Homo sapiens: one gene and its partners. The protein of the gene in region 1 purifies or fractionates together with the protein of each later gene. This does not show direct contact. Each region holds a gene or a part of one and is shown in the gene's direction. Other genes may lie near its edges.

The links.
Region 2: the proteins of PRSS21 (region 1) and ALG9 purify together in Homo sapiens (affinity purification with mass spectrometry; one large-scale study listed by BioGRID and IntAct). This does not show direct contact.
Region 3: the proteins of PRSS21 (region 1) and ROBO1 purify together in Homo sapiens (affinity purification with mass spectrometry; one large-scale study listed by BioGRID and IntAct). This does not show direct contact.
Region 4: the proteins of PRSS21 (region 1) and WAPL purify together in Homo sapiens (affinity purification with mass spectrometry; one large-scale study listed by BioGRID and IntAct). This does not show direct contact.
Region 5: the proteins of PRSS21 (region 1) and SMOC1 purify together in Homo sapiens (affinity purification with mass spectrometry; one large-scale study listed by BioGRID and IntAct). This does not show direct contact.
Region 6: the proteins of PRSS21 (region 1) and ABHD17B purify together in Homo sapiens (affinity purification with mass spectrometry; one large-scale study listed by BioGRID and IntAct). This does not show direct contact.

Annotation. Positions count from the first base shown.
Region 1 is NC_000016.10:2,814,875-2,820,519, forward strand, and holds the start of PRSS21 (testisin isoform 1 preproprotein), read left to right. Parts: upstream 1-2,362; 5' UTR 2,363-2,394; coding exon 2,395-2,458; intron 2,459-2,555; coding exon 2,556-2,582; intron 2,583-2,926; coding exon 2,927-3,092; intron 3,093-3,802; coding exon 3,803-4,095; intron 4,096-5,467; coding exon of another isoform or gene 5,468-5,532; exon of another isoform or gene 5,533-5,645. UniProt on the Homo sapiens protein: Could regulate proteolytic events associated with testicular germ cell maturation.
Region 2 is NC_000011.10:111,861,163-111,866,207, reverse strand, and holds part of ALG9 (alpha-1,2-mannosyltransferase ALG9), read left to right. Parts: intron 1-956; coding exon 957-1,027; intron 1,028-1,509; exon of another isoform or gene 1,510-2,015; intron 2,016-5,045. UniProt on the Homo sapiens protein: Mannosyltransferase that operates in the biosynthetic pathway of dolichol-linked oligosaccharides, the glycan precursors employed in protein asparagine (N)-glycosylation.
Region 3 is NC_000003.12:79,761,026-79,766,070, reverse strand, and holds part of ROBO1 (roundabout homolog 1 isoform a precursor), read left to right. Parts: intron 1-5,045. UniProt on the Homo sapiens protein: Receptor for SLIT1 and SLIT2 that mediates cellular responses to molecular guidance cues in cellular migration, including axonal navigation at the ventral midline of the neural tube and projection of axons to different regions during neuronal development.
Region 4 is NC_000010.11:86,500,839-86,505,883, reverse strand, and holds part of WAPL (wings apart-like protein homolog), read left to right. Parts: intron 1-5,045. UniProt on the Homo sapiens protein: Regulator of sister chromatid cohesion in mitosis which negatively regulates cohesin association with chromatin. Involved in both sister chromatid cohesion during interphase and sister-chromatid resolution during early stages of mitosis.
Region 5 is NC_000014.9:70,021,634-70,026,678, forward strand, and holds part of SMOC1 (SPARC-related modular calcium-binding protein 1 isoform 1 precursor), read left to right. Parts: intron 1-1,569; coding exon 1,570-1,814; intron 1,815-5,045. UniProt on the Homo sapiens protein: Plays essential roles in both eye and limb development. Probable regulator of osteoblast differentiation.
Region 6 is NC_000009.12:71,868,718-71,873,762, reverse strand, and holds part of ABHD17B (alpha/beta hydrolase domain-containing protein 17B), read left to right. Parts: intron 1-3,500; coding exon 3,501-3,680; intron 3,681-5,045. UniProt on the Homo sapiens protein: Hydrolyzes fatty acids from S-acylated cysteine residues in proteins. Has depalmitoylating activity towards DLG4/PSD95. Has depalmitoylating activity towards GAP43. Has depalmitoylating activity towards MAP6. Has depalmitoylating activity towards NRAS.

The DNA of each region.
Region 1 (5,645 bases):
ACCCAGACACACACACCCGCCCAGCCTCTCCTGCACGCAGGGGGCATGCACACACGAGGACGCTCCTCACCTGCATGCCTGACCTGGGGAAGAAGCCCACCTGGTGGGAGGCACCCTCCTCCCACCCTCCATCTGCCATGGCCCAAGTGCTGGCCCCGAGCCCGTGCCCAGGGAGACTCAACACAGGCCCTTTGTCCCTTGGGATCAGGGCTCCCAAGAGAGGGATTTACTGAGCATTTATTTCCTGCCCCGGGCACGCCCCAGTCCTCATTCTGCCAGGAGAAGGGAACAATGAGGCCTTCTCCTGCCCGCAGAGGTGGCTCCGGGCCGGCTGGCCCTTATGTGTCAGGAGTCGGGTTAGGACCACAAGTCCCTGTCCTCCCTGCCCTCCAGGTGTGGGGCTTGGGAAGACCCCTCTGTGACTCTGCAGCCTGAGGCACAGCAGACAAGAGAGTCTCCATCTGCAGCCCATGCAGCAGCCAGGGCCTCCCTGCAGCCCCCGGGCCAGGCTTGGCCTCTGCGGGAAGCCCCCAGCCTCACTGGAGGCAAGAACCTGAGTCCCTGGCTCAGATCTCCGGGTAGGACTGGCCTGACTGAGACCCTGGGCAAAACCAGGAGCTGACACCTCCTAGGGGCCTCAGCGGATCCCTGGGACTCAGGAACCAGAGGGAACGTCCTGCTGGCTGGGAGAGGGGCAGGATCAGAAGCCCAGGGACCTTTGCCCCAACCCAGCAGGCCAAGGCCAGGCTGTGCATGTGACTTGTCCTTGAGCAGCTGCTGCTGGGGAAGGAGGCCCTGAGGGAAGGCACCGCAGCCTTGTGCTCCTGAAACCCGAAGCTCCCACACACCCGCTGCGCCCTCATTGAGTTCCCGTTGGTACCATGCTCTGTGCTAAGCATTTTATCTGTACTTTCCCCAAAGAAACTTAATACTTTTATTGGAAAACCAGAACGCCTAACCACACATTTTGCCTAATCTTTCATGTAATTAACCTTCCACTAGTGCAAGTGTTGAAAGTAGAATACGCTATTCCCAAGTTTCAAGTTGAGGGAGGCGGGATTCCCAGGTTCTGGTTGTACATTCCCATTTTCACTGATCTGTTCAGTGGTCAATGGATTCTTGGGTTGCTTTCATGTCAGCTACTGTGAATAATCCTGCTATGAACATGGGTATACAAATATCTCTTGAAGGCTGGGTGGGGTGGCTCACACCTTCACCCTGGCACTTTGGGAGGCCGCAGAGGGCAGATCACCTGAGGTCAGAAGTTCAAGACCAGCCTGGCCAACATGGCGAAACCCCATCTCTACTAAAAATACAAAAATTAGCTAAGCATGGTGGCAGGTGCCTCTAATCCCAGCTACTCTGGAGGCTGAGACAGGAGAATCACTTGAACCCAGGAGGCAGATGTTGCAGTGAGCCAAGATCGCACCACTGCACTCCAGCCTGAGCGATGGAGCAAGACTCCATCTCAAAAACAAACAAAACTAAATCCCCCCAAAAAACCAAAAACAAATATCTCTTGAAGACCTTCCTTTCAGTTCTTTTGGGTGTATGCTCAGAAGTGGAATTGCAGCTGGGCGCGGTGGCTCATGCCTGTAATCCCAGCACTTTGAGAGGCCGAGGTGGGCGGATTACCTGAGGTCAGGAGTTGGAGACCAGCCTGGTTAACATGGCGAAACCCCGTCTGTACTAAAAATACAAAAATGAGCCAGGTGTGCTGGCGCGCGCCTGTAACCCCAGCTACTTGGGAGGCTGAGGCAGGAGAATCGCTTGAACCCAGGAGGTGGAGGTTGCAGTGAGCTGGGATCACGCCAATGCACTCCAGCCTGGGCGACAAGAGCGAAACTCCATCTCAAAAAAAAAAAAAATTGTTCCAGAGAAGTGAAGAGAGCCCAGCGGGAGCCCGCAGTGGGGACAGCCTGGGCAGAGACTTGGGGAGATCCCCATTCTGGGTGGAACGGGCCGAGGACCACTGTTTTCCCAAGAAGGTCCCATGAAGGAGCAGCCATGCCTCTAGGCCCCACCCGGCCTTCAGGGGGTCCCCAGGCTTTAAGGGGACTCCTGGCTCAGGGCCAGGCCCTTGGTGCTGGAGGAGGTTGTAGGTGGAGGACGGGGTCACCAAGAGGGCAGCCGGGACCCCTGGGCTGCAGACAAGAAAGGGACTGTGGGGTCCACCGGGTCTGGGCCACATCAAGAAGTGTGGTTGAAGACCCGCCCCTAGGGGCTGAAAGCCAGGGCGCTGCCAGGCATGAGAGGCCCCAAACAGCCCTTGGGCCCAGGAGGGTGAAGCTGGGAGTAGAGGGCAGAGCTCCCACCCCGCCCCGCCCCCAGGGGGCGCCCCGGGCCCGGCGCGAGAGGAGGCAGAGGGGGCGTCAGGCCGCGGGAGAGGAGGCCATGGGCGCGCGCGGGGCGCTGCTGCTGGCGCTGCTGCTGGCTCGGGCTGGACTCAGGAAGCCGGGTGAGCTCGGGGCGCTGCTGGCGGGATGGGGAGGCGGGGGAGCGGTGGGGAGGACGGGAGGTGGAGGCCGCGGGGAGTCACTTCTTGTCTCCCGCAGAGTCGCAGGAGGCGGCGCCGTTATCAGGTAGGGCGCCCAGGACGCGCGATTCCTGCCAGGGCCGTTGGGCCGAGGTGGACGGGGGGCGGTGAGGGGGTAGAGGGGGGCCTTTACTGCTCTCTCGCCCCCGCCCCCGGGATCGAGAACTCTGTTGGCGTGGAAAGTAACTAACGGACGCTGGAGGGGGATGGGCGGGCCCTGCAGAGCACGTGGGAGGATCTCCAGTGTCACCTACTTCCTGCTGCACACACGCGAGGGGACCCTGGGTGGGCAAAAACGTGCTTTCCCGGACGGGGTTGAAGGGGAGAAAGGGAGAGGTCGGGCTTGGGGGGCTGCCTCCCGCGGCTCAGCAGTTCCTCTGACCATCCGAGGACCATGCGGCCGACGGGTCATCACGTCGCGCATCGTGGGTGGAGAGGACGCCGAACTCGGGCGTTGGCCGTGGCAGGGGAGCCTGCGCCTGTGGGATTCCCACGTATGCGGAGTGAGCCTGCTCAGCCACCGCTGGGCACTCACGGCGGCGCACTGCTTTGAAACGTGAGTGGGGGTGCGAACGGAGGGGTGCGGGGACGGGCAGGAACAGGGCTGGAGGGAGTGCCACCGAACTTTACCTCTGGTCTGATGCCAGACTTGGGCGTGAAAGTTGTGCGTGGATGCGGCCTGGTGTTCTCCTGAGCCCCAGGCTGTGCTGCAGCCGGTTACACCCACTCCAGTTCCCTTTGGGTCTCCTGGAGGGAACCCTGTTCAGGTTATTCCAGAATGTTCTTCCAGAACATTTCCACACACTTTTGGGTATTCTCTCCCTTTTTCTTTCAACCCAAAGTTCACCACTGACCATCCCACCCTCATCCCCCCTCCTGGTGGACGGTGCGGTACAGTGTGGGGCACTGAGCCAAGGCCAGCACCCCCGGGCCGCTGTGTGGACTCCATCCTGCCAATCCCACATTGGCGTGGTGCATCTCCCCATTCCTCCTTGGGCTGCATGGGGGTGCCCCTGGAGGCCTTGGCTCAATGCAAGGCTCCTTGGGACAGCTCTGGGAGGTGACAAGACCCCACCCTTCTGCTGCAGGAGCAGGTCCTAGGACTTTGGTTGTGGTCTGTCTGGGCTCCTTCATTTCTGCAGGGGACCCTGGGTGTTAGCAAGTAGCAGCAACACCACAGTTTCCCCTCCTGCACTGGACCCCAGTTGTGCTCAGGTAGCCAGCCCTCCATCCAGGGCCCCTGACTGCTCTCTTCTCTTCTGCCAGCTATAGTGACCTTAGTGATCCCTCCGGGTGGATGGTCCAGTTTGGCCAGCTGACTTCCATGCCATCCTTCTGGAGCCTGCAGGCCTACTACACCCGTTACTTCGTATCGAATATCTATCTGAGCCCTCGCTACCTGGGGAATTCACCCTATGACATTGCCTTGGTGAAGCTGTCTGCACCTGTCACCTACACTAAACACATCCAGCCCATCTGTCTCCAGGCCTCCACATTTGAGTTTGAGAACCGGACAGACTGCTGGGTGACTGGCTGGGGGTACATCAAAGAGGATGAGGGTGAGGCTGGGGACAGGCGGGTCAGGGAGGAACTGTCTTTGTTCACCTGTTCCCCTGCATAGGCACAATAGCCCCCTGCTTGGTCTGGGGGTGCAGGCTATGCCCCTCTTGCTTGCAGTCTCTCCTCACCTGCCAGGGCAGGGACCAAACACCCAGTTCTCTCCCTTCCAGGGGCTGTGGGGGCCAGAAGGAGAGTGTGAGAGGGAGGCCAGTTTGGCGCAGGCCTGTGGGTGGTGCGGTGGTGGAGGGGTTCTGGAGGGCTTGGCGACATAAACCTCATACTTGGATTTATTCCTGCATCTTTCCACCTCCCCCAGTGCTCACCAATGCCCCAGGCATCAGGCTCCTGGGCTGCCTCTCCATGCCTCCCACACCCACCCTAGCTCTGGCCGATTCTCCTGCAGCACTGAGCCCATTCCTCTCCCCAGAAACTTCCAAGCCATGCTCAACCGCAGCTCCCACGGAAACCCCTCTGGGGGTTCCTCTGGTGGGCCTGCCCTGGCACCTGCGTGTCCCCCAACACACATGCCCTGAAAGAAGTGGGCCCAGCATCCGGAGGAGCCCCGGCAGCCCCAGACTGGGCGTGTTCCCTGTATCAGGAATCCCTTCCCTCTGCTCCCCTGTCTGGCCCGTCCCTGCATCATCCCACAACAGTAGTAACAATAACAAACGTGGTTCCTTGAGCACACGCTGTGTGCCTGGCACTGTTCTAGACATGGGGGCCCAGCAGTGAGCCAGGCGCGGCCTCTCCTCCTGCTGGAGCTCACCTAGGAATGAAGTTGGTAACGTTCTTATACCCATCTTACAGATGAGAAAACTGAGAGGGTTATGGAAATTGCCAAGAACTAGTAAATGGAGAAGTCAGGGCCCCTTGCCTTAGAGAGGGTAAGGGATGTCCCCAAGTCACACCCCGGCAGTTGGGAGTGGGGAACTCAGCACTGGAGCCGCCTCCCTCTGGAGGAGGGATCCTTTGCCTTCCCTGAGAAGGACCCTTGCTGCAAACACGAGTGGATATGAGCCAGGGGCACGGCCAGGCTGCCTCTGCCACCCTCTCTCCCCAGCCCAGGGTAGACAGGTCACACCAACCCCAGGCTGTGCCTCAATTCACAGTGCCGGGGAGGCAGGGGACAGGCACTTCTGGAGCCCCCTGCCTGGTGTGCACCTTTGCTGTGCCCTGCGCGGGCTGGGAGGCCTTGGGCAAAGGTGTTCATCTTACAGTGCCTCAGTTTCCTCCCCTGTGAAATAGGGGAATGATGGTGCCACATCAGAGGCTAGTTCCCAGGTTGTTAGTCCCGAGGGCTTAGGAGAGGCCCCGCTGACGGGAAGCGCTGCCTGCAGGTTGGGTCTCATTGTCTTTTGTCATCCTCTGCAGGACAAGGTGCTGGCTGGCACTCTGAGGCAGGAATTGGACAGGTGTGGGCTCCTGTCAGGCTCTGAAACTTCCCCAGTGCCTTGCTGGGGGTCAGCGGGGCAATATCCCCCTGACTCTCCTTATCTGGGAGTAGGTCCTGATGACTGCCGCCTCCCAGGGGTGCTGGGGGTCCCTAAGA
Region 2 (5,045 bases), on another chromosome or scaffold:
CCCTTGCCTCAGCCTCCCGAGTAGCTGGGGTTACAGTTGCCCGCCACCATGCCTGGCTAATTTTTTTGTATTTTTAGTAGAGATGGGGTTTCACCATGTTGGCCAGGCTGGTCTCGAACTCCTGACCTCAAGTGATCCGCCTGCCTCGGCCTCCCAAAGTGTTGGAATTACAAGTGTGAGCCACCATGCCCGGCCAGTTATACTATATATTAAGTAGTGTTTAAGTTCTGAGAAATTCAGTGCTCTTAACCATATGGTATTCTGTAGTATAAAGCTACTTAATATAACCCCTATTTTATTATTTTTATTTTTTAAATTGATGTCAATTATAAAATTAATAAAGCCACATAACAGAACTTTGGAAGATAGGAGGAAAAATACTCATCTAAATCTACCAGGTTGCTATAGCTACTTTTACCATTTTATTACATTTCTTTCCAGTCTTTCCACATGCATATAGTGTCCATAGCTGTAACTGATGTATAAATAATATTGTACATTTTCTCTTAATATTTTGTCATAATCACTACCTGATATATTATGGTTGTTGAAGAATTGCTTGTTGAATGAGCATTATATTGCAAGAATGTTTTCACTATCTTTGTAAACATAAATTTTAATAGCTGTATAATTGTCCATGAGCTAGATGTAGCCTAGTTTATTTAATCATTTCCCTATAATTGGATATTTTGTAGTTTTTGAAACAGTTTTTACTAAAACTGCAATTAACATTTTCATGAATGGAGCTCTACCTCCCAACCCCCACCAGCTGGAGTGATAGAAGTAGGTATACTGATATTGAGTCAAGGGATATGAAAATTCTTGATCCATGTTGCTTTTCAAAAGAATTATACCAATTTACAGTGTTATTGACAATAAATGAGAGTGGTTCATGTTTATGAGTTTTTCTAGCTCATATCTGTGACTTCTGTTTTCTTTTTCTGGGTTTCTTTTAGATTCTTGTGTTTTACTTTTTGCGATGTCTTCTGGCTTTTGTGAGCTGTATTTGTGAACTTTACTTTTACAAGTGAGTATAAAAACTTTGCTTCTAAAAGTGCTGTGAGGAAACCCATTATTGCATAGATTATCTGTTGTGATAGTCTAGGCAGTGATTAGAAATAGAAAACTCTTGACCGGGTGCGGTGGCTCACACCTGTAATCCCAGCACTTTGGGAGGCCAAGGCGGGCAGATCACCTGAGGTAGAGAGTTTGAGACCAGCCTGACCAACATGGAGAAACCCCATCTCTACTAAAAATACAAAATTAGCCGGTTGTGGTGGTGCATGCCTGTAATCCCAGCTACTCGGGAGGCTGAGGCAGGAGAGTCACTTGAACTTGGGAGGTGGAGGTTGTGGTGAGCTGAGATTGTGCCATTGCACTCCAGCCTGGGCGATAAGAGCAAAACTCCATCTCAAAAAAAAAAGAGAAAGAAGTAGAAAACACTTTCCTCCTAGCTCCTGATATATATATCATATACATATTTTTTTTTCTGGGAAAGAAAACTTTTTTTTTCATACTGAGTTTTATTGTATGCTGCTGCCAGTGTGGATAAAACAGTTACCCTTGTGAAATAGAAATTCATGAAATTCAGAGAGGTAGATGTTAAAGACTGATGAAACTAGAAGTTCGTATATTACAGCACATGTGCTACAGGGATAAGCTTTTGTACAGGCTTCAAATTTAGCTCTCTTTTGAATATCCACTGGATCATAAGAAGTGGTTTGGGAAACTTTTGAAATTCATTTTACTACAAAAAAGAACAGATTTTCTGGGGTCTGAAGGGATTTGTACTTGAAGATACTCTAGTCAGCAGAGGGTCATGTTGAACATTCTGCAGACAGAATTGTTTGAAGTCTGCAGCTGCCTGGGAAACTTTTATGCAGTTGAGCCTGGCCTCCAGCCGGGGCTGTTGAACCACTTTCTTCATAGCGGCAACGCTGGAGGAGCCAGACATGGTGCACGTGAGGGCCGGGCCAGTTCGTGGGTTGGTGGGTCGTGGGTCAGCGGGGCCTGACTGAAAACTTCTTGCTTTTATTTATTGTTCTCTTCTTTTTCTTTTTTTAATTTTTATTTTTCAATAGTTTTTGGGGTACAGGTGGGTTTTGGTTACATGGATAAGTTCTTTAGTGGTGATTTCTGAGATTTTGATGCACCCATCACCTGTAGCTCCTGATATTAAATCTGAAGTGTGACTTCTCGTTTGAAACCAACAGTTGAAGGGAACACTGTACTTCTAATTATCGTTTTCTTTCCTGAGGTCATAAATACCATATCCTTATATCATTCATTTTAATTCTGTTAAAAACTATCTAACTGGTCTTTACTTGATAGGATTTAGTAGAACCCTATTTTCGGTCCTAAGATACAGGATCATGATTTGCCTCTGCCCTACAGCTTAGTTGATAATAAACTACTCCCGGTGTGGGATATCACTGCTCTTGTTTGCACCCAATATATTGTCTTTCACAAAGTACCTATTAGTTGATTGAATATTAGTTGGGACTATTAAGCATTTAAGTGTCCCGGTAATAAATATAGCCACCTTTTTTACATGATAACTAACAAACGTCTTGTTTTAATAATGCTTTAGTAATATATTTAAAGGTATTTGGACTTAGTGATCATTATTTAAAATCTTCCCACAGCTAAAAATGTCAGATTTTAAAAAATGTTTGGCCTTGACTGTGAGTGGAGTGGAGGGAAAAAAAGTAAAGCTAGTGCTGCCTTTGAGGATTGTAACCGTAAATTCCGTAAATTGGTCTTTATATGGGTTTGGGCCTGAATTCAGATCACCTATGTGGTCCTTCAAGCCCTAAGCTGAGAATTTACTTTAATATATTTTATTTATTTTATTTTATTTTTGAGACTGTCACCCAGGCTGGAGTGCAGTGGCATGATTTCGGCTCACTGCAACCTCAGCCTCCCGGGTTCAAGCAATTCTGCCATCTCAGTCTCCTGAGTAGCTGGGATTACAGGTGCAAACCACCACGCCTGGCTAATTTTTTGTACCTTTAGTAGAGATGGGGTTTCACCGTGTCTTGGTCTCCTGACTTCGTGATCTGCCCGCCTCGGCCTCCCAAAGTGCTGGGATTACAGGTGTGAGCCACCAGGCCCAGCCGAGAATTTATTTTAAATTGTTCTGGGTTGGTAGTGCCCGTGGCATCTGGCAAAAAATTTCTCTAGAGAAATGGACCCTTAACCCAAGTGTCTGAAAATTACCAGAGATAAAGTTCTAGTGAACAAGAAATTATAATAAAAATAAATCAGAGCACAGAGGGAGCAAAACATTATGGGTGAGAATCAGCAGAAATAACAGTCAACAGAACGTTCACCTGAAAAACTTCATTTATTGGGAAATAGGAATATAATGTAAGTATATTTAACATTTTCAAACAAGTAAAAGAACCAAAAACATGAACAAGAAACAAGAGATGACCAAATAAATTTAAAAAATTCAGAACTTATAAGAATCATATAATATGTAATATTATATAATATGAATAATATGTATATAATATTTATATTTAAGACTCAGTAGATAAACAGCAGATTAGACATTCTGATGAGTAAACTAGTAAATTGGAAGATTGATTTAAATAAATTACTCAAAATGCAGTACAGACAGACCAAAAAAAAAAGGTAATATAGAAAAGGTTAAGAAATGTGTAAGCCACGGCTGGGCACGGTGTTTTATGCCTGTAATCCCAGCACTTAGGGAGGCCGAGGCAGGTGGATCACTTGAGGTCAGGAGTTCGAAACCAGCCTGGCCAACATGGCGAAACCTCATCTCTACTAAAAATACAAAAATTAGCCAGGTGTGGTGGCACATGCCTATAGCCCCAGCTACTTGGGTGGTAGAGGCACGAGAATCACTTGAACTCAAGAGACGGAAATTGCAGTGAGCCAAGATCACCCCATTGCACTCCAGCCTGGGCAAGTGAGACTCTCTCTAAAAAAAAAAAAAAAAAGAAAAAAAAGAAACATGTAAGCCAGAGTTGAAAGAACTGACATACATCTAATCAGATTGTAGAAGGAGATGATAGAATGCGGAGAGGCAATATTCGGGGTATTAATAGCTGAGAATTTTCTAGAAATGATGGGAAAAAAAGATGCTAATCCATGGATTTAGTAAACCTAACATATCCCAAGCTAGATACATAAAAAATTAGTGTAGTGAAACTGTGTAAGACAATAGAGACAAAGAGAAAGATTTTAAAAATTGTCAGAGAACTAATAGAATACCTGCAAAGGAGTGTTAGGCAATTACACTGACAGAAGACTTTTTAACAGCCAGAAGACCAAAAAAGAATATCTTCAAAGTCCTGAGAGAAAATAACTTTCATCCTAAAATTGTATATTAGGTTAAGCCATCTTTTAAGACCAAGAGCTAAATACAGACTTTTCAGTTTAAAAAAAAAAGAGAAAGGGAAAAAAAAAGGAAGAAGCCTGTAATCCCAGTGCTTTGGGAGACTTAGGCAGGAGGATCATTGAGGATTGCTTGAGCTCAGGAATTTGAGATCAGCCTGGGCAACATAGCAAGACCTCATCTCTACAAAAAATTAGCTGGATGTGATGGCACATGCCTGTAGTCACAGTTACTCCTAGCCATTCAGGAGGCTGAGGCAGGAGGTTCCATTGAACACTGGAGTTCAAGGATACAGTGAGCTATGACCATGCCACTGCACTCCAGCCTGAGCGACAGAGAGTATGACTCTATCTCGGAGTGGGAGGAGGAGGGGAAGAAAGGAAACGAAAGGAAACCAACCAACCAAAAAAACGGAATTTATCATTAACAGATTCTTATTGAAATAACTTCTAAAAGAGGTACTTAGGAAAAAGCAAAATTATTTCAGAAAGAAGCTCTGAAATGCAGTAAGGAATCTGAGCTAGGAAATGATGAACACGTGGGTATGTCCGAACAAACATTGACTGAGTGAAGCAGTAATAATGCCTAAATACATTTAATTTGTGGGGTTCACACCTACAAGAAAGAATTAGAAGAAGATACGTAATTGCTTAAGTTTGAGAAACACTGATTTAACCAC
Region 3 (5,045 bases), on another chromosome or scaffold:
TCATTTCACAGGGTAGTTTAACCCTGACCTCAGCACCTCCCACCCTTTCACGCCCCGCCAAGGAGTGCCCCGACCTTGTAAACTCCTCTGTGTCATCTGCCCTGTGTAAGTGATTTTCATCAAGCTGTGTGTTACAGAGGCCTGTTAAGAGATGGTTGTCTGTTTCCAAGTAGTGGTGGGAGGTTGTTTAATTTGGAGGTTGCTTGTCAACCCGGGCTGAGCGCACAGAGGAAGGAGCGTAGATGCAGGACCCTATAGAATGGGCCACTTGGGGTTGTCAGTTACTTGAAGGCTACACATCAAAGGAAATATACTGATTGAGCACCTGGGGGAAGACAATGCCATTTCATTTTTTCCTCGCTTTCCATGTGCCTCCTTTACTGTGGTTGTTTGGGAACTAGGATATAATAATTACAAAAAAAAGTTGAAAATCCACTGATTTATTTGGAAGCCTCATAACTGGGTTTTCAGGCCCAAACTTGTATTCTCCTAGCAGCTATTATTTTGAAAGCCTCAGTCTGACACCTTAAAACCTGCTTCTCTACTATATCTTGAGGAGGCACTGGTAACTTTCAAAGGCAATCTGTAAGCATGCATCATGTTGATTTTGTTAAAGGGAAGAGGCAGTGTTGGTAGATGTTCCATCAATATTTGCCCTTCCAAAATCGGCCCCCACCCCCCAAAAAAAGGAAGAGGAAGCAGCAGCAGCTCGGAGCAGATATCCAGTTGGTAAGATGACTTTGTTTCTTATGGACCTATACCTCTCCCATGAGGGATAAAAATTAGGATATCTAAGGAGTGGGGGCATTCACCTTATATTGTTGCCACGGTTTTTGGACTTCCTTTAGCCTTTTCGCACATATCTTCCTGCTCCATGCCTCTTCCAATTTAGCCCTGTAGGAGCTGCAGAATTGAAGCACAATGACACAGCTGCAGATCCCTGGTGGAGCCTTGCTTCAGAAAACAGCTGTTAATCACATGTTTGTTGTATTTTCCTATTTACTTCCTTTTACTTCCCTTCGCTTCCCTTAGCCTGTCCTTGAACCAGTGTTACCATCTTCTGGGCTCTACTCTATGAAGGTTAGTGATTTCCAGTGATATAGCACTGAGCTGAGCATGGGAGGAGGGGAGAGACTCAACAGCTGCCTAGGGAGTCCCAAAGGTTTAATGCCAACTTTCTCTTACCCTATACTGCACAAAATAAAGAACAAATACCCTAATATCTCCCCAAAGAGAACTGCATTGTTCTGTATAATTTTCTTTTATCTTATAACATAGTAGAATCAATTCAAATACAAAATAACATTGACCAGAGATGAAAAGGAAGCTATACACTTGTGTGCACTATTTGGAAAGTAGTGTTGTGCTTAGCTATAAAATCTCACTTTTTGGCCTTCATCTATACTTAATACATTAGGAACTACTTTTATTTAAGCAAGATTTAATGTATTACTTTCATTACAAAGCTGAGAAACTCTAGACACCACAAAGATGTGAATTTTAAATGAAAAAAAGCAAGGCAGTAAAGTAAGCCCCTGGCAGCTTGATGAATGAGCAGGTGCAATGCACCATTTGAAATGTATCTTGAGGTGAGCTTCCACCAATCTGCTGGAGAATGAGCTCCTTCTTGCCACCTAAACTCAACTGATTTTCCTCTTTCTGAGACCACAGACAAAAACATGATAGCATACAATAGGCTAGATTATGACCTGGTCACATAATCATTTATCTCTCTAAACTTGCTGTTGAAGTGAGCAATGTTACTGTTAATGTATTCATATTTGTACCTAAAATATATTAGTGCCAATTCTCCTAATTCTATAGGAAATTGAGGTCCTAGAAGGCTAACTGACTAATTCAAAACTACATAGGATAAAACTGTAGAAACAGTGTTAGTCACCGTACCTGCAATAGATATTTCACTTAATCCCCACATAACCCTTTCAAAGTAGGCTTTATTAGATGTCTACAACACATGAAGAGAATGAAGCTCAGAGAGTTTAAGGAAAATAGACATGACTATTCAGCCAAAAAGGGGCAGAGCCAGGATTAAAAACAAGTTCTTTCTCATGACAGAGTACATGCTTTTCTAGTATGTCATACTGCTGCTTTTAAGGGAGCCATTCTCTTCAGTTAACTGGACCTACCTATTTTCCCCCATATTTAAACAAGGAGTTTGATTATTCCTTGAATTTTATTTTAGTACTCATAATTTTTTAATCTCCTTGATATCTTTTTCATGTCCAAAGCATTATCTGCATTTCTCCAAGAGCAAACTTTTACAGTTACTTTCCAAGGATCTCATAAACAGTAAATAACTTTTTCAGAAAATATACCCCACCCCTATCTGCCACCCTGCCTGTATCATCTCTGGGGGTCAGAGCACTTGGGGAAAACTGAGGGGCTTTCCATTTTCTTTGAAATTTGTGCATATGTAGCCAGGATGCCTGCTAAGGATCCAGTACGTCAGTTTCAGCCAGTTGTTCTTTTCTGCCTTTCCATTTCTGCACACGTGTCTTCTCTAATCTGCAAAATTATCTTCTTCATTTGGCCAAACCCTATCCATTTGTCTAGGGTGGTTCATGTTCCTTCTCCACCATAAAATTTTTCTTATTATTCCAACCCTATTGCTGTTCCTTACCTCTGAAATTCCAAGTAATTTCCAATAACATCTGCTGTCTAATTTGGTCTTTATTCAGGGATTAAGAGGAGTAAGCTAACATTTTTTGAGCCTTTACCTTATATACTTTTACATACATTATCCATCAACTATAAATTTCTATTTCTTCATTATATTTCTGCATTTTGCCCTTATTATTTTTTCGCACTCGATAGTCACCCAGATGTTGTGATACATTTCCGGAGTTTCAGTAATGACATTCAAATTTTATATTTCTTGTCCATGCATTGCTCCTGATTGTCATACCTATATTTCCAAAGATCTAATTTCATCTCCACCTAGAAATGCATCACAAGCATTTTAAAGGAAACTGTCCTAAAGGAAAGCATTCAAAGCCACAGGTATCATCCTCCCTGCCACACTTGCTTATCTCTTTAGATTTCCAAGTGGTAAATAGCACATCATGCATCAAGACACATTCCTCTTTGCTATGTCCCTCTGCCTCATTCCCTATGATCATGTAGTGAAAAGAAAAAAAAAATTATGATTTTTCTCTTGAACTTCACCTCTTCTCCTCATGGGCCTGCCCTCCAATTCTTACTTCCACTTCCTGGGATCAGCCATTTGAAGTCATGTGCAACAAGTTTGGCGAGCTATCTGTCAGGGCAAAAATGACAATTTCTAAACTCCTTAGTCATTGAAGGTACTCTGTGATATGAAGCATGAATTCTTCTTTTCAGTCTTCAGAATTATCAATTACTATGAAAATTTACTTGCATTTTCTTAAACACTCAGGATGTTTCATTCCTCTCGGCTTTTGTGTGTGTGTGTGTGTGTGTGTTTGTCCAGAATTCTGCCCCAAATGGTTCTCACTTTCTTATTTTTTTAGCGATGTTTGAAAACACAAAACAAGTGTCACTTCTTCTGTGAAGACCTTCATGTTAAGAAAATAGGTTTAAGTATTCCTCCCTTTCTGATCATTTAATAATGCCTCTGAAATTCCATTGTAATCATTTATTCGTTTCTACTATGAGACTGCGCTATGTTCTGAATGCTGTGTCTTCTCCAAATTCATATGCTGAAATTAAAATTAGGAAGTGGGGCCTTTGGGAGATGACTAGACCATGAAAGCAGAGCCCTCAGGAATGGAATTAGTGCCCTTATAAAAGAGGTCTGAGTAAGCTCTCTTGCCCCTTCCCCCCCGACTAAACATAAGAAGATGGCTGTCTATGAAGCAGAAAGTGGGTCCTCCCCAGACACCAAATCTTCCAGCGCCTTGATATTGGACTTTCCAGCCTCTAAAACTATGAGAAAAGCATTTCTATTGTTTACAAGGCACCTATTCCATAGCACTTTGTTGTAGCACCCTAAAGATACTAAGACAGACTCTAAATTCTGTGAAGCAGTATGTCTCAAACTTTGTCCATTGAACCAAATAAATCTTAAAAGTGAAAAAAGTAGCCCTTAAAACACCAGTCCCAGGATCCCCCATCAGAATTACTACAATAGAATATATGGGGGTGGGGCACTTGAGTCCACATATTAACAGAATCTATTCCAGGTGTAACTAGGAACAGGGAGTTTATCACAACAATTGCTCTCCAATTCAGTCAGATCAATATGGCACTTAATTTAGCATTTGGGGGAGGAGCCATTTGCAAAGCTTTTTAGATCTTATTTTGTGTCTTCCCAGATTACCGTGCTTCAGAGAAAGATTTGCTTAGAGTATAGTAAATTAGATCACATGAGTCACTCTTACTGAAGTACAAGAGTCCTGCATCAGAAAGGCAGATTTGCCAAGAGCAGAATTTCAGTAATCACATGTGAACATGGCATTTAGAGTTGAGGTGCTGCTGTGCAGAGTACTTGGAGCTTTTAATGACTCTGACTTTTTATTATTATGACAAGTTTGATTAGCAGACACAAAAATGAGTGAAACAAGTTCCCTTGAATTACCACCCAGGTTAAGTAATAAAAGATTAAATGTAATATTGAAGTTTTCTGGGTACTCTTCCAGATTGAATCTCCCTTCTAAGAGGTAACCAGTGTGGTAAATTTGCTGTTATTATTTCTATGCATTTTCTCTTGAGTTTACTGTATATATTACATATTTAATTCATATATAGTATTGTCTTAAGTAAATAAAATATTAGCCTAAATTGTCAAATATTGTTTGCATTCTTGGAAATATTTTTTTATGATTAATTCAAGTTGCTTCGGGTACAGTTACTTTATTCATATTCATTGCAATATAGTGTTCTATAAATACTATAAGTATATACATATATTATATTTTTAAATATATTATTATTATATATTTAGTAGGTATGGTAAAAATATATAGTATATTTTATATATAGTACATATATTTCATATATAATATAGTGCATATATATTATAGTATATATACAGTATTAAAATATGT
Region 4 (5,045 bases), on another chromosome or scaffold:
GTCCCCATTATGCCCCAGAAACTGTTCACTTTCGTATGTTTAAAAAAATACAAGAACATGCTCTTCAATAGCCAGAATATAGTGTTCCTTGTTCTTTTTGAAATTGTATTTCTATCCTACTTCCCCTTCAGAATTTTATCCTAATGATTATAGTATTTATGTTTAGTCTTTTAGTGGTCATCCTTTTCATAATTCTTGGTATAAAAATATGTATATGCATTTAAATTCAAATTTTTAAGAGCCGAGGCTGGTACAAAAATATGTATATGCATTTAAATTCAAATTTTTAAGGGCTGTGACCGGGCGCGGTGGCTCATGCCTGTAATCCTAGCACTTTGGGAGGCTGAGGTAGGCAGATCACTTGAGGTCAGGAGTTTGAGACCAGCCTGGTCAACATGGTGAAACCCCGTCTCTGCTAAAAATAAAAAAATTAGCTGGGAATGGTGACTCGCGCCTGTAGTCCCAGCTACTCAGGAGGTTGAGACAGGAGAATATCACTTGAACGTGGGAGGTGGAGACTGCACCACTGCCTTATTGACAGAGCAAGACTCTGTCTCCAAAAAAAAAAAAAAAAAAAAAAAAAGAGTTGGGCACTGTGGCTGAAGCTTGTAATCCCAGTACTTTGGGAGGCTGAGATGGGAGGATCGCCTGAGTCTAGGAGTTTGAGACCAGCCTGGGCAACATAAAAAAAACATAAAAAAATCCTGTCTCTACAGAAAAAAAAACTCTACAGCTTTTAGGAATTTTATGTGACTGTAGTGCTCTAAACTGTTTTAAAAATAATTCTGTACTACATCATGATCACAGTTATCAGTGCTTTTATTTTTTTAATCAAATGCTCTCAGAATATTTGATCAAACTTGAATGCTATAATCAAACTTGAATGCTGTATATATTAAAGATAAAATTTATTGGAAATGTATCTTTTAAGAGATGAGTGGGCTTTTTTCAGTTAGTTTATATATATATGAATGAATGTTATTGCTAAAGTATATAAAGGTTTTGGACAAAAAAGTTCTTTGGCATCAATTTTATTCCTATTTTTTGTTGTTTTTTGTTGTCAAGATGGAGCCTCGCTGTGTTGCTCAGGCTGGAGTGCGTGGCTACTCACACAGGTGTGATCATAACAGCAGCCTCAAATGAACCGCTGGCCACAGTGCCCTGGGTAGCTCTAGGTGGGACTATAAGCACGTACTGCTATGTCCCTGTTATTCCTTTTTCTTTTTTTTTTTGAGACTGAGTCTCGCTCTGTCGACGGGGCTCACTGCCACCTCTGCCTCCCAGGTTCAAGCGATTCTTCTGCCTCAGCCTCCCAAGTAGCTTGGACTACAGGTGTGTGCTACTACGCCCGGCTAATTTTTTGTATTTTTTAGTAGAGATGGGGTGTCACCGTGTTAGCTAGTCTGGTCTCGATCTCCTGACCTCGTGATCTGCCCACCTCTGCCTCCCAAAGTGCTGGGATTACAGGCGTGAGCCACCGCACCTGGCCTGATGGTTGCTTTGAGATAAAATAAATTAATAGAAAGTATTTAGAATACTACCAGGCACATACCGAGGGCTTATATAAATATAGTTCAGCTTTGTTTTACTTTGAGTTTTAATTGTGAGTGAAATTGAGTATCCTTCATAAGTTATTTAATTCATTATAGATATATATTTTAATGAATTGCTTCTTTGTGTTCTTGGCTTATTATTTATTCATTTATTTTTGAGGCAGAGTCTTGCTCTGTTGCCCAGGCTGGAGTGCAGTGGTGCTATCTCAGCTCACTACAACCTCTGCCTCCTGGGTTCAAACAATTCTTGTGCCTCAGCCTCCCAAGTAGCGAGGACGACTGGCATGTGCCACCACGCCTGGCTGGGTTTTTTTTGTCTTTTTAGTGGAGACAGGGTTTCACCATGTTGGCCACACTGGTCTCGAACTTCTGGCCTCAAGTGATCTGCCTGACTCGGCCTCCCAAAGAGCCGGCATTATAGGCCTGAGCCATTGTGCCTGGCCCCTAGCGCCATTTTCTACTGGGACATTGGACTTACTGATGTGTAAGGATTCTTGGTATATTAAGGAATTTACCTTTTGTGTTTCCCTAGCAACTAATGATAAGCATTTTTCATGTGTGTATTCTTTTTTTTTTTTGAGATGGAGTCTTGCTCTGTCACCCAGGCCGTGGTGCAGTGGTGTGATCTTGGCTCACTGCAAGCTCCGCCTTCCGGGTTCACGCCATTCTCCTGCCTCAGCCTCCCGGGTAGCTGGAACTACAGATGCCCGCCACCACGCCTGGCTCATTTTTTTGTATTTTTAGTAGAGACGGAGTTTCACTGTGTTAGCCAGGATGGTCTCAATCTCCTGACCTGATGACCCACCCGCTTCGGCCTCCCAAAGTGCTGGGATTACAGGCATGAGCCACCACACCCGGCGAAGTTTGTTTTCTTATCATGACAGCCATTCAGATATTTAAAGGCAGGTTTCATGTAATGGCAGTTTTCTTCCATCCCTGCACCAATTAAACCTTTCTAGTTGCCTCAACTGTATTTCATGGGTTATGGTCTCCAAGCCACTTTGTATCATTTGCACAGATTTCTTACAGGTTAAAGGCATTGTTTAAGTTTAGTCCTCAGCACACCGTGAGATAAACATTTGCTATTTCCACCTCAGCCTCCCAAAGTGCTGGGATTACAGGTGTGAGCCCCCGCGCCCAGCCAGTGAATTAGTTTTGTTGTTGTTGTTCTTTTAAACAGAGTCTCGCTCTTTTGCCCAGGTTGGAGTACAGTGACATGATCTTGGCTCACTGCAACCTCTGCCTCCCGGGTTCAAGCAGTTCTCCTGCCTCAGCCTCCTGAGTAGCTGGGACTACAGGCGCCCGCCACCACGCCTGGCTAATTTTTGTGTTTTTAGTAGAGACAGGGTTTCACCATGTTGGCCAGGCTGGCCTCGAACTCCTGACCTCATGATCCGCCCGCCTTGGCCTCCCAAACTGCTGGGATTACAGGCATGAGCCACCACGCCTGGCCTAGCATTTTAGTGTTTAGCAGCCACCACTAGACGTAGTGTAATATAGTTTGGTATGGGTCTTTTTTATGAAGTCTCTTTTGACTATTGATTTAATTGAGAACCTCTGCAGTCATTAGCCCCTCTGGGCCTTTTTTTCTCATCTGTGTAATGATGGGTTTGGTAAGAAATCAAAGGAAGTATCTTCATTTTCTTATAAGAGGGTAAAGGAAGTCTGTATATATTTGTGTGTATAGACTAGTATACAGTTACACAGATGTATACATTTGTGTGTTTATGTCTACAAAAATAATGTCTATTTGTATCTCCATCTCCATTAAACAGTTCAACTGTTTAATCTTCAACAAACAATTCATTGCCAGTCTTGTTTCATTTTTATCCTCACTAAAGTAAATTCAAGATGTTGTATTTGATTCATAAATATATTTTTTTAACAGATAAGGACTCCAAAAATATACAATTTTGGCATTTTTTATGTTTTGGCTTTTGAATAGACAACTTACATGCAGTATAAAATTCAAGAAGTATGAAAGTCTTTTCTTGTTCCTTATCCCTTAGTCATTCCATCTCTAAGAGCATCCATATCTGTACATAATGTAGAGCTGCCTCATTCTTTTTAACAACTGCATAGTATTCAGGTGTGTTGCTATATGGTAATTTAATTCTTTATTAATTGGTATATTGTTTATGAAAGCAAAAACCAGGAAACAGTGTTCTATTGAGTTTCTTGTTACTTATGTAATTTTGTGTTCGTGGAAAGTTATTTCTAAATACTTGTAAATGAAACTGCTGGCTTCAAGAGTAAGTCCTTTCTTTCACATGTACATTTTTAGTTTTAAAAGATATTACCAAATCTTAACCTGTTAAATTACATTAAAACCCTTTGGAGGCTGGACGTGGTGGCTCATGCCTGTGATTGTAGCACTTTGGGAGGCAGAGGCAGGACGTTTGCTTGAGCCCAGGAGTTCAAGACCAGCCTAGGCACCGTAGTGTGACCCTGTCTGTTAAATAAAAAGGGGAGTTAGGCAGGTGTGGTGGTGCACACCTGTAGTTCCAGCTGTTTGGGAGTGCTGCTCAGGAGGCTGAGGTGGGAGGATCACTTGAGGCCTGGAGGTCTCTGAAGCTGCAGTGAGCTGTGATCACACCACTGTATTCCAGTGTGGGTGACAGTGAGATCCTGTCTTGAGGGCAGGAAAACCTATTGGGTAGAATTAAAAATTATGCAGTGAATCTGTCCATGTAAAGCATCCCTCTCACCTGTATTTGATGATGCTAATTGAGATTTGTAAATAGCTTTTCTTAAATGTAGATGTATTTTGTAGAAGTAATTTTATTGTTTGGCATAGGGTATACATTTTGTCAGTGTTTTTCTACAAGTAAATGTTGAGGGAATTAATAATACCAGTTGGAATCATATTTGTATCTCATTTGGAAAGGTTGTAAAAATGTTCTGATAGTAAAAATTGAAGGCAACAAAAATGAATTCTCCACATACCAGATGAATAGGCAGGCTGAGGATTTATTACTGGCTGATATGCATAAATAGCCACTATTAGCCATTTAACTAACACACCAGAACTACTGCTAAAAATTCCCTTGAGATTATATGGCATTTAGGATTAGAAGAAAGAACAGAAATAGCTAGAGAAACCTGATCCTATGGACAGGTTTCTGGATAGAACTAGCATACCTTATGGGCAGCCCTATCCCAGATAAATAAAAACACTGGTAGAAGGTTTTTATTAACTGTTCAGTTGGTTTAGGTTTTACTAAATGATTTTTAATTTAAGCATCTTTATTTGAAAAGCCCATAATACCCCTAAGAAGGTTTGGCTGAGTCATTTACATGTCATTCTGAATGGATTCAGTTGCTTAACCCTGCTGAAATTTCTTGTGAGTTTACAATTTTAAGGGACTTGGTTGCCTGAGGAAAGGTCAGTAGAAGGCATGAGAGCTATACACTGAAAAGATAGGAGAGGAAATGTCTGATATGTAAATGTTAATTTCTTCACAACTTAAAATTATTTGCAGTTCTTCCAAG
Region 5 (5,045 bases), on another chromosome or scaffold:
GATGCCCGGATTACCTGCTCAAGACTGAAATTCAGCTAATTAGGAATAGGCATCTAACAGGGATGGATGACTGGCTTTTTTTCCCCCCGCATAATGGAACTTCTTTTTCCCTGAACTTGGACGTTACTTGGTGGGGTGGAAGAGGAGGGAGTTTGCTGGCTTGTTCACAGGGGAGGGGTCAGAGATTATCTCCCTTCTGGAAAACTCAGCAAACCCCAGAGAAGTCAGGGTGGCATGACAAGTGCCTTGAATAGTTTCCCCACCAGGAACAGCTTCAGAATGTGCAGACAGGCCTTCGACCCTGATCTAGGATCCCTCTGGAACAGTGAGCCCTCTGCCCCACTTCTGACCTCTGGTAGTCATGTGCTCTGTCCCAGCGCCCTGCACACTGAGGATGTGAATGTGTGGGACTCCCAACATCAATCTTTTTCTCCTTCCCCAGGGGAAGTTGCACAAGGGCCTAGATCACAGTCACTCAGTGCCAAGCCCTGGGAACAGGAGCCATGGGGCTCATGGGGTTCCATTCTCCTCGTTAGTGAACCCAGGCAGCCCCTCTGTAATAGACCCATTATTGGCTTTAAAAATTGTAAATAGTAGTTATCACCCTGACTCCGTTTTGGGAGAAAATAGGAGACAGTTAAGTAAATAACATAGATGAGTAGGCCATTACATACAGTTACACATGTAGACGTAGATGTTGGCCTTGTAACTTGATGAGGGGCTGTGTTAGATGTGCTTGTGACTCTGCCTCTGGATGCCAGGAAGTGTTCTTGGTGACTCTAGTCCAGCATTTCTCAGCAGAATCACCTGGCAGTGCTGGTGAATACATGGTTTCCTGGGTCCACCCCAGATCCCCTGACTAAAACCTCAGGCTGGAGAGACTCATCCCCAGTAGGTCCCGGCTTTTCCAGTTTTGGAACTTCTGTTGGTGTCTGACCCAGTTGCTTTCTTCTCTCAATTCCCACTGCACTGGATGTCCAGCAGTGATGGACCGTGGGAACCTCACACCCCACATTCAGTTGTCATGACTATTTTCACCTTTTTGGCTCTGTCTCATAGAGACAGTGAGCCACTTGAGGCCAGGGGTGCACCCTCCAGGGCCCAGACTGGCACTGGGCGTACAGTGGATGCTCAGAGCACCTTCCCCACAGTCAGTCCACCACAGGGCACATGTTTACGTGTAATGAGCAGCTTGTCCGCAGTGAGTGCTAGGCCAGGGGAGGGACAATTTGGATTCCAGCTCTGGTTTATTCAGCAAATTAGATCAAGCCAATTTGTCTTGAGCACCCATCATGTACAAGAACATTTCTGGCTTTGGTAGAGGGTGAGTCATGTTTGTGTAATAAGGATTACCCACCTGGGGAGTCCTGAGAAAAGAATGGTCCAATCTTAGGATTTGAGTCGGAGAGGATGGCTTAACGTTGCCACAGGCTGAGCCGCTGTGGGTGGACTTTGGCTTGGAGGAGCCGTTTCTACCTGACTTTCTGGGGGCAGTCATACCAGGGCTGATGGTTCCTGCAAGATCCTGATTGGTGTTCTCTGCGGTGGGGGTGTTTGTCCATGGCCCAGGTTCTCAGAGCCAGACCCCAGCCACACCCTGGAGGAGCGGGTAGTGCACTGGTATTTCAGCCAGCTGGACAGCAATAGCAGCAACGACATTAACAAGCGGGAGATGAAGCCCTTCAAGCGCTACGTGAAGAAGAAAGCCAAGCCCAAGAAATGTGCCCGGCGTTTCACCGACTACTGTGACCTGAACAAAGACAAGGTCATTTCACTGCCTGAGCTGAAGGGCTGCCTGGGTGTTAGCAAAGAAGGTGAGTGCTCTCCCCTGTGCTCCTGGCCTTTCAATACTTGCCCCCACCCAGGCATGGGACCAAGGGCTCTCTGATAAATGAGATTCCAGATACTCATCTATTCATCAATTATTTGCTGGAAGTGTGCTATGCTTCATGCTAGATGTTTGAGACAGTGGTGGAATTGACTGATAAGGTCCCTATCCTTGCACAGAAGACAGAGCTTAAATAAGCACTCACATGAGCTGTGATACATGCTGTGAGAGTGTGCTAGGGTGGGCCAGGCTACAGTCACAAGTAGACCCATACATCATGGCTTGACACAGTGGAAAATTTTTCTTTCCCATATAATAGTTCAGCATGGTCGCAGGTTGTAGGGTGTGTGTGTGTGTGAGTGTGTGTATGTGTGTGTGTGTGTGTGTGTGTGTGTAGGGGTAGGAGTAGGGGCAGGGATTGCTCTATGCAGTCACTCTGGGATCCAGGCTGAGAGTGACTCTGCCATCTTCATCATGTGGCTTCCAAGGTTACTCTGGGGGTCATCTCCATCCTCAGTCAACCAGATGGAGTAGACATGAAGCAGTGCATGTGAGGGAGTTTCATGGGCCAGTCCTGGAAATGACACTCATTCCTGCTGGTATTTCACTGACCAGAGCTCGGTCACTAGGAAGGCTGGGTTTTATGGGCCAGCCCTGGAAATGACACACATTCCTGGTCATAATTCATTGGCTGGAACTCAGTCACTAGGGGAAGGGAACCCAAGAAGAGAGCAGCATGAATTCTGGTGAACACCTAGTAAGCTCTGTCACAGCAGGGCAAGTGCAGAGCATTGTAGCAACATATATAGGGGCACCCAAGACTCTAAGGGACAGACAGCCTTGAAAAACTTTTGAAGGAAGCGATGCCTAAACCAGGGCTCAGCAAACAATGGCCTGAATGCTCAATCTAGTCTGTGGCCTGTTTTTGTACAGCCTGTGAACTAAGAATGATTTTTGCATTTGTAAAGAGCTGTAAGTTTTTTTTGAAAGAAGAATATATAAGAGGGACCGTATATGGCCCACAAAGCCTAAAATATTTACTATTTAGTCTCTTGCAGATAAATTTGCCAACCCATGGTCTAACCCATTACTGGAAACATGAGTAGGAGATGGCCAAGCAGAGAGGTCAGGAGAGGGAAGAGTGTTCTAAGCCAAGGCAAATGAGGAGTGAAGCTCTGGAGGCAAGGAAACAGTTTTCAATGAGCTGAAGGATGTTTGTGTGACTGAAATGAATATTTTAACAGTGGTAGGAAGAGCAGGGGTGGTGACAAGAGGCAAGGTGAAGTTGGAGAGTTTTTAAATTCAGGTGAAAGACTTTAGACTTTATAAGGGTAGTGGAAAGCTGTTGAAGGCGTTCAGAGAATTGATAGTATCAGTTTTTCTTTAAAAAGTATTCTGGTTTCAGGGTGGGACATGGATTGGAAATGAGCAAGGCAGGGTCATCCAATAGGAGGCATGGCACAGTCCAGGCTAGAGTGATGGAGGGCCAAGTTATGAAAACACAGCAGGGTAAGGGGAATGGAGAGAAGTGGGTGATTGGAGATCAAGTTAGGTATGGGACAAAGGTAGGTTTGTTCAGCTGGAGGCATGGCTGCTCACTGAGATGGGCAACATGGAAGGAAGAGCAGGTTAAGTATAGAGGGATGTAGAGGGTGCCCAAGTATGGTTTGGACACGTTGAGTTGGATGCACATGAAGGATGAGTGGCTCTGTAATGCAGGTGAAGGGTCTGAAGATGCAGATTTGGGTGATGCCGACTTATTTGAAATGGAAGCTTTGGAAAAGCTGAGATTTCCTAAGGAGAGAGTTTAGCAGAAGAAGATAAAAAGGCCTTTTCCTTGTTCCTCAGTTGTCAGAGTAAACCCAAAGAATAGCATGGGAAATGGATGGGTTCCCATAGGAACCTGGGCTTGGGATCCACTTCCCACCGCCCGCCCCGCCATGGCTGGTTTCTGGCCTTGGTTCTGGGGCTTACTGGTGTGTGACTGACTTCATTACTCTGGGCATGCCTGTCTGACGCGGATGCTTCTCTGTTCCCATAGTACTCTGAGTCTCCAGGACTCAGCAATGAGTCAATGGTTCAAACCCTGCCTCTGTCCCGGCCTCGCTCTTTCACTACATGCGGCTTGAGTGTCCCTTATCTGAAATGCTTGGGACCAGAAGTGTTTGGAACTTTTTCAGATTTTGTAATATTTGCATTACACTTACTGGTTGAGCATCCCAAATCCACAAAATCTGAAATCCGATATGCTCCAGTGAGCATTTCCTTTGAGCATCATGTCAGCACTTAAAAGGTTTTGGATTTTGAAGCATTTTGGATTTCAATTCAGTACAAATTACTGAACCATTCTGCATTTCAGTTTCTTCACCTGCTTAATGGGAAAAATGCTAGAGTCTATCTCATAGGACTGTTGTGCTGATTAAATGGGACAGTGAGTTAAAGCATTCCCAAAGTTCCTGAGAAATTGAAATAACTCAATAGAAGTTCAATACTACTATTCTTCTTTGTAAGATGAACTTACACTGTGTTGCAGTTTACTCTTCCGATTACCCCTTGAAGCCAAAAGGATTCTCTCTCTCAATTCCTAACCTCTAGCACCGTACATGGCACCTGGTAATTCATTAAGTCCTTGTTAGATGAATGAATAAGTGAAGGAATGAATGGATGGGGGGGTTGCCCCTTCCGGTGACATTATGCTCTGACACGCTTGGAATTTGTGGTCCTTTCGCAGAGCACAGTCAGATGGCCAATGTCGGGAAGAGACCATCCAGTGTCAATGTAGACCCCAGGCATACCAGGGGCACTCCTGGGCTAAGCGATGATGCTCTGTACTGCCCCTGCCTTCGGCCCCCTTCCCGTGCTAGTAGTTCTGGTCTGCACAGCACACGGAAGCCAAGCAATGGCTGAGTGTGGTGAGCTCAGATCCACCGAGCTCAGGGACTCCTCCTAGCCTTCCTCTGAAGCCTTTCCAGGCACCAGGTGTCTGCCAGTCCCAGCTGACATACAGGACCTGACAGAAGCATCCAGAGAAAACTGAAGTAGAATGTAGATTTAGGGATCCCTGGTCATCTGGATGTTCCTCCTCAATCCAGGCTCAGCTGCAGACAAGTGTTAGTTTCAGTTATCCTCATAGCTTTGCCCACAGAGGCCCCTAGGGTGCTTTGGAGTGCAACTGTCATTCTTCTTGGCCCAATACACCCTCTTGAACCTCTCACCT
Region 6 (5,045 bases), on another chromosome or scaffold:
AGGAGTTCGAGACCAGTCTGGCCAACATGGTGAAACCCCATCTCTACTAAAAATACAAAAAAAAAATGTCTGGGCGCAGTGGCTCATGCCTGTAATCACAGCACTTTGGGAGGCTAAGGCAGGTAGATCACGAGGTCAGGTATTCGAGACCAGCCTGGCCAAGATGGTGAAACCCCGTCTCTACTAAAAATACGAAAATTAGCCGGGCACAGTGGCGGGTGCCTGTAATCCCAGGTATTCGGGAAGCTGAGGCAGGAGAATCACTTGAACCTGGGAGGCGGAGGTTGCAGTGAGCTGAGATCACACCACTGCACTCAAGCCCAAGTGACAGAGTAAGACTCTGTTTAAAAAAAAAGAAGTTTTAATGTTATGATAAATTGTTTAATAAAATTTTCTTACTATGTCAGTTATTCTTTGATTATAGCAGCATACATTTTGGGGAACTAGAAATTGCATTAATCTTTTCTAGTCACCAAGATACCTAAACATTTTTCTTGAAAAAAAAATCACAATTTGGTAGACTTCAGTGTATTATTAGTCAGGTTAGTGTACAATAAACAGATACCTTAATATAGGCTATTCTTTATATTATATGAAAATAAAATATCTGACTTCCAGGATGTTTTAGACTGAAGCTATAGGATATAAAGAAAACTTACTGTTTCTAATTTAATGTTTAAATATTAAAGATTTCATTTAGTCAGGAAAAATTTCCTCAATTTTAATAATAAAGTAGTTAATATTATTAAAGATATTAAAAATATCTTTAAAACTATTTTTCCCTCCAAAGAAATGTAATAAAGTTATGCTCTCATAGCGAAGTTCTACATAAAAGGGATTCTTAAAATCAACTGAAATTATATAAAAACATAAATATGGGGAATAAGGAAAAAAAGATGGCAAGTAGTAGGTAAAGAGTTGATGGGGGATGGTAAAGTTATTGTTTAATTGATAAATTAAAAACTGCTTTAAATAAAAATCTTTTACATATATTGATATCAGTTCCATCAAGCCTTAAAACAAACAGAAACTGAGTGCCCACTTTTTAGAGTCAGTCAGTTGAATAACGTATAACAACTATAAGAAAGTATTATAATTAAAAAAATAGCTTTATTGAGTGATAAGGTTCACACTTTTAAAGGTTAACTTCAGTGGAATAATGAAGTTTTAAAGGGTGCTAAGTTAAAACTGATAGCCAGCTTTCATTATTAGTGCTTCCCAGTAACGCAAAAGGGTCACTTTACTCAAACAAAACATGTTAGTATTCAGTTCAGTGTTCTGTGTCTATATGAAAAAATCCCATTTTTTAAGTGGTCAACTTTACTGTTTTTTTCTTTTCTTTTCTTTTAATCTTGGCATTTACCAATTTGAAGAAAACTTTGAAAAATGATTTTCAGCCTTAATTTTTTTAACATATTTGATAGCCAGTGTTAATCAGGAATGGGCAGATTTCATCAATAATCCCACATACTATTTTAGCACTTATATTTTAGAATTTTAGACCTGTGTTTTCTTTCGTGTTGAAACCAAAATATAGTTGGAGTTTCATAAGTGTAGGTACTTTAGGAAATATTACTTCTCTGAGCCTGTGTTTCCTCATCTGTTTAATGAAGAGATTGAATTAAATGATCCCCAAGATCTTTTCCAATTCTGGAATTCTGTCATCTAATGAAATGTGTGTAATTAGAATACATGCCTTTTATTTTATTTGCCTGATTAAAAGTTAGGACTTAAGTAACCAGGAGAGAGAAAATAAATAATGAACTTAAATAATGTTCATTTTTGGGATGAATGAACATTGGAATGTCCTTTTTGGGAAAATTGGATATCCATAATAACTCCAATTTCTGACCTTCTGATGGACCAAAAGAAACTCGGGGCCTGGCATTCACTATGCACCTTTCCCACAAAGTCCTTGAGTTCCTCATCTGTGTGCTTCAGAGGTAAAAAACACTGAACTGGGAGTCAGTATACCTGGGTTCTAATTATAGAGCTGTCATCTACTGGTGACTTTGAAGATCTGCTCATTAGGCAGCTGGACTCTAGATTAGATGGTCTCTAAACTCCTTTCTAGCTCATACTGTTAGGCAGTTGTTACTCTTGTGAGTCCCCTCATGCTTAATTGTCAGCTACCTCTGCGACTCTATCCTTGAGCATTGTCATTGCTAGCTGTAGCCCAAATTTCATGATTGCCACCAACAATGCTGATATTCAGCTGACAGCAACAATGCAGCCTCAAGAACTGTGGTCATGCTGCAAATGTTCATTCTCCTAATTTCTTCATTCGTATGAAATATGTGCAACTAGGTCTGTTGTAAAGAAAAAAGCTTTTCTGAGTTTGCTAATATTTAGAGTCAATTTGAAGTAGACAGAGCCCCACTTTCTGTGTCCTATACAAATGCTTGTGTAGTACTGACTTGAAGAAACTATATGGGGAGAGCTGTGTTACTACCTGTATAGTTGAAATAGTATTATGCCCCTGGAAGAGAACACACGGACAGTTTCCCTCGCTCTTTCCTGGTGAATATCCAGATTCTTAGAAAGATATTTTACCTTTGCAAAAGATTTCCAAAAGCAGCTGTTATGTTCTTAGCTGCCAGAGTGACTGCTGTCTGCCTTCTAAGTGGAAAGGTGTATTTAATGTCACTATAACCTTTAAGCCCACATTCATTAGCTCAGGTAGCACTGTACTTACACTTGCAGTAGTTTACATTTGGGATGATTATACTGTAGACAAGTAGCAAGCAGTTCCTTGAACATACTAGGTACCCAATAAATATTTATTGAGTCAATGAGTTTTCATCTATTTAAACCTGTGGCCATTTTAAAGGGATTAAAATAGTACCTTGTAATTTTAGCGTAAAGTCTAATCATAAATAATTGGACCATGTGGTGTTTGGAATTCTTTTTTATCTTTTCAACCATTAGTCCATTTCTACAACTAAGCAAAGATCAATTTTAAGAAAAATCGTAAAATCATAATTTGCCCTTTACTAAAACCATACATATATTCATTTCATACCATAACTATATGTAACAGTTCATCAATATGACCAATTTTGGAAATTAAAATGAGCCACTCTTGATGTGTGGAGAAATAAATAACTTTTGTTACACTGAACGGAAAATAAATATGACCTATTCATTCAACATCAGTTCATTAAAATATTAGTGATATGCCCCAAGCTTAGTCAGCAGTAAGCTAGGTTGAAATATTATAGTGTAATAAATTATTTAATAAATTTATTTCTTAAGATTGAAATCTTAAAATACCTCAGCAATTATTCTTCCAAAAGATGAAGTAGAGAAACACATGAAATAAACTGATGATACAGACTTTATTGTAATGTTAAAACTAACAGTAATAGCTAAGAAACTTAAGTTTAAAAAATGGATTAGTTGACATTGTCTTATTCTAAGATCAAATCCTTTGGAATGATGGAACATTTCATATCACTCCAACTTTTTTGGTTTTTGTTTTTAACGCCTGAACTTTGTAGATATGGCATTCGCCCTGAAAATGTGATTATATATGGCCAAAGTATAGGGACAGTACCGTCTGTGGATCTTGCTGCTCGATATGAGAGTGCTGCTGTTATTCTTCATTCTCCTCTGACTTCGGGAATGCGAGTTGCCTTTCCTGATACCAAGAAGACCTACTGTTTTGATGCATTCCCAAAGTAAGTAGCAATATTCAAAATAGTTAAATTCCAAGAAACTTGGGAATTTTTTCATCATTTAAAGTATTCATGACACAGTTCACTCAACCATAAACTTCATTTTATATATATTAGCACATAGAAATTATGAAAAATTAATTTGTAAAGAGGGTATTAGCAGGTGACCAGTCAGAAGGCTGAAATGTTTGAGGAGTAGTAATCCAGATGAAAATTGCTGAGGGCCTTACACCTCAGGTGGTGGCACTAGTATTGGAGACAAGGGAATTAATTTGAAACATAAATTTGACAGAACTGAGTATCAGACTGGGTGTAGGATGCTAAAGAGAAAAACTTGAACATGACTACCATGTTTCTGCCCTGAGGTGCTAATGGATAGGGCCATCCAGTGAGACACTTGATGTTAGAGAAGAACAGGTAGAAGCTAAAATGAGTAAATATCTGATTAATGATACCTAACTTACAAAAGAAGTGAATTGAAAAAAAGTTGAATCTTAAATTAACTAGATTAGTAAGTATTGCTGCCACAAAACCTGCAAACATACTTAGATGTATTTGAAAGGAAAGTAGCTACTTTTCCTTCATGCTTCTCAAGACAGGAGGTAGTTCCCACCTACTCTTCATAGTTGGAAAAAATTAATGGCCTATTTTTCTCAAGGAGAAGACAAGAAATAAGTTGGCAAATTTTAGTTTTCTCTCCTTTCTCCAATTGGCAGCAATACAAAGGATTTTTTTTGTGAATGGCCGATGGGCCAAAGGCAAAGTCATCACATGGTTCAAGAATTATTTTAAAAACACAGAATTTTCATCATTAGCCAGTAATGGATCACTTTAGTAGGGAAAGTATGTGAACACATGATCTTATCACAAGGGCAAGCTGTGGGCATGTTTGGGTTTTTATTTTGTTTTGGGTTTGTTTTTGTTTCAGGTAATGTGGGTATAGGCATTATACTGCCTCTGTCTAGCTGAATGGTAAAAATGATAGGGATGTATCTGAGTATCCCCATATCAGTGTTGTTGTCAACTTATGTCTCCATCTAGCTCCCTCTTTCATTTCTGGTGCACCAACAGAGAGCAACACTAAAAATAAACTGTTTGGCCAGGCACAGTGGTTCACGCCTGTAGTCCCAGCACTTTTGGAGGCCGTGGCGGGTGGATCACTTGAGGCCAAGAGTTCGAGACCAGCCTGGCCAACATGGTGAAACCCCGTCTCCACCAAAATTACAAAAATTAGCCAGGCATGGTGATGCGTGCCTGTAATCCCAGCTACTCGAGAGGCTGAGGCATGAGAATCCCTTGAACCTGGGAGACAGAGATGGCAGTGAGCCAAGATGGTGCCACTGCACTCCAGCCTGGGCGACAGAGCGA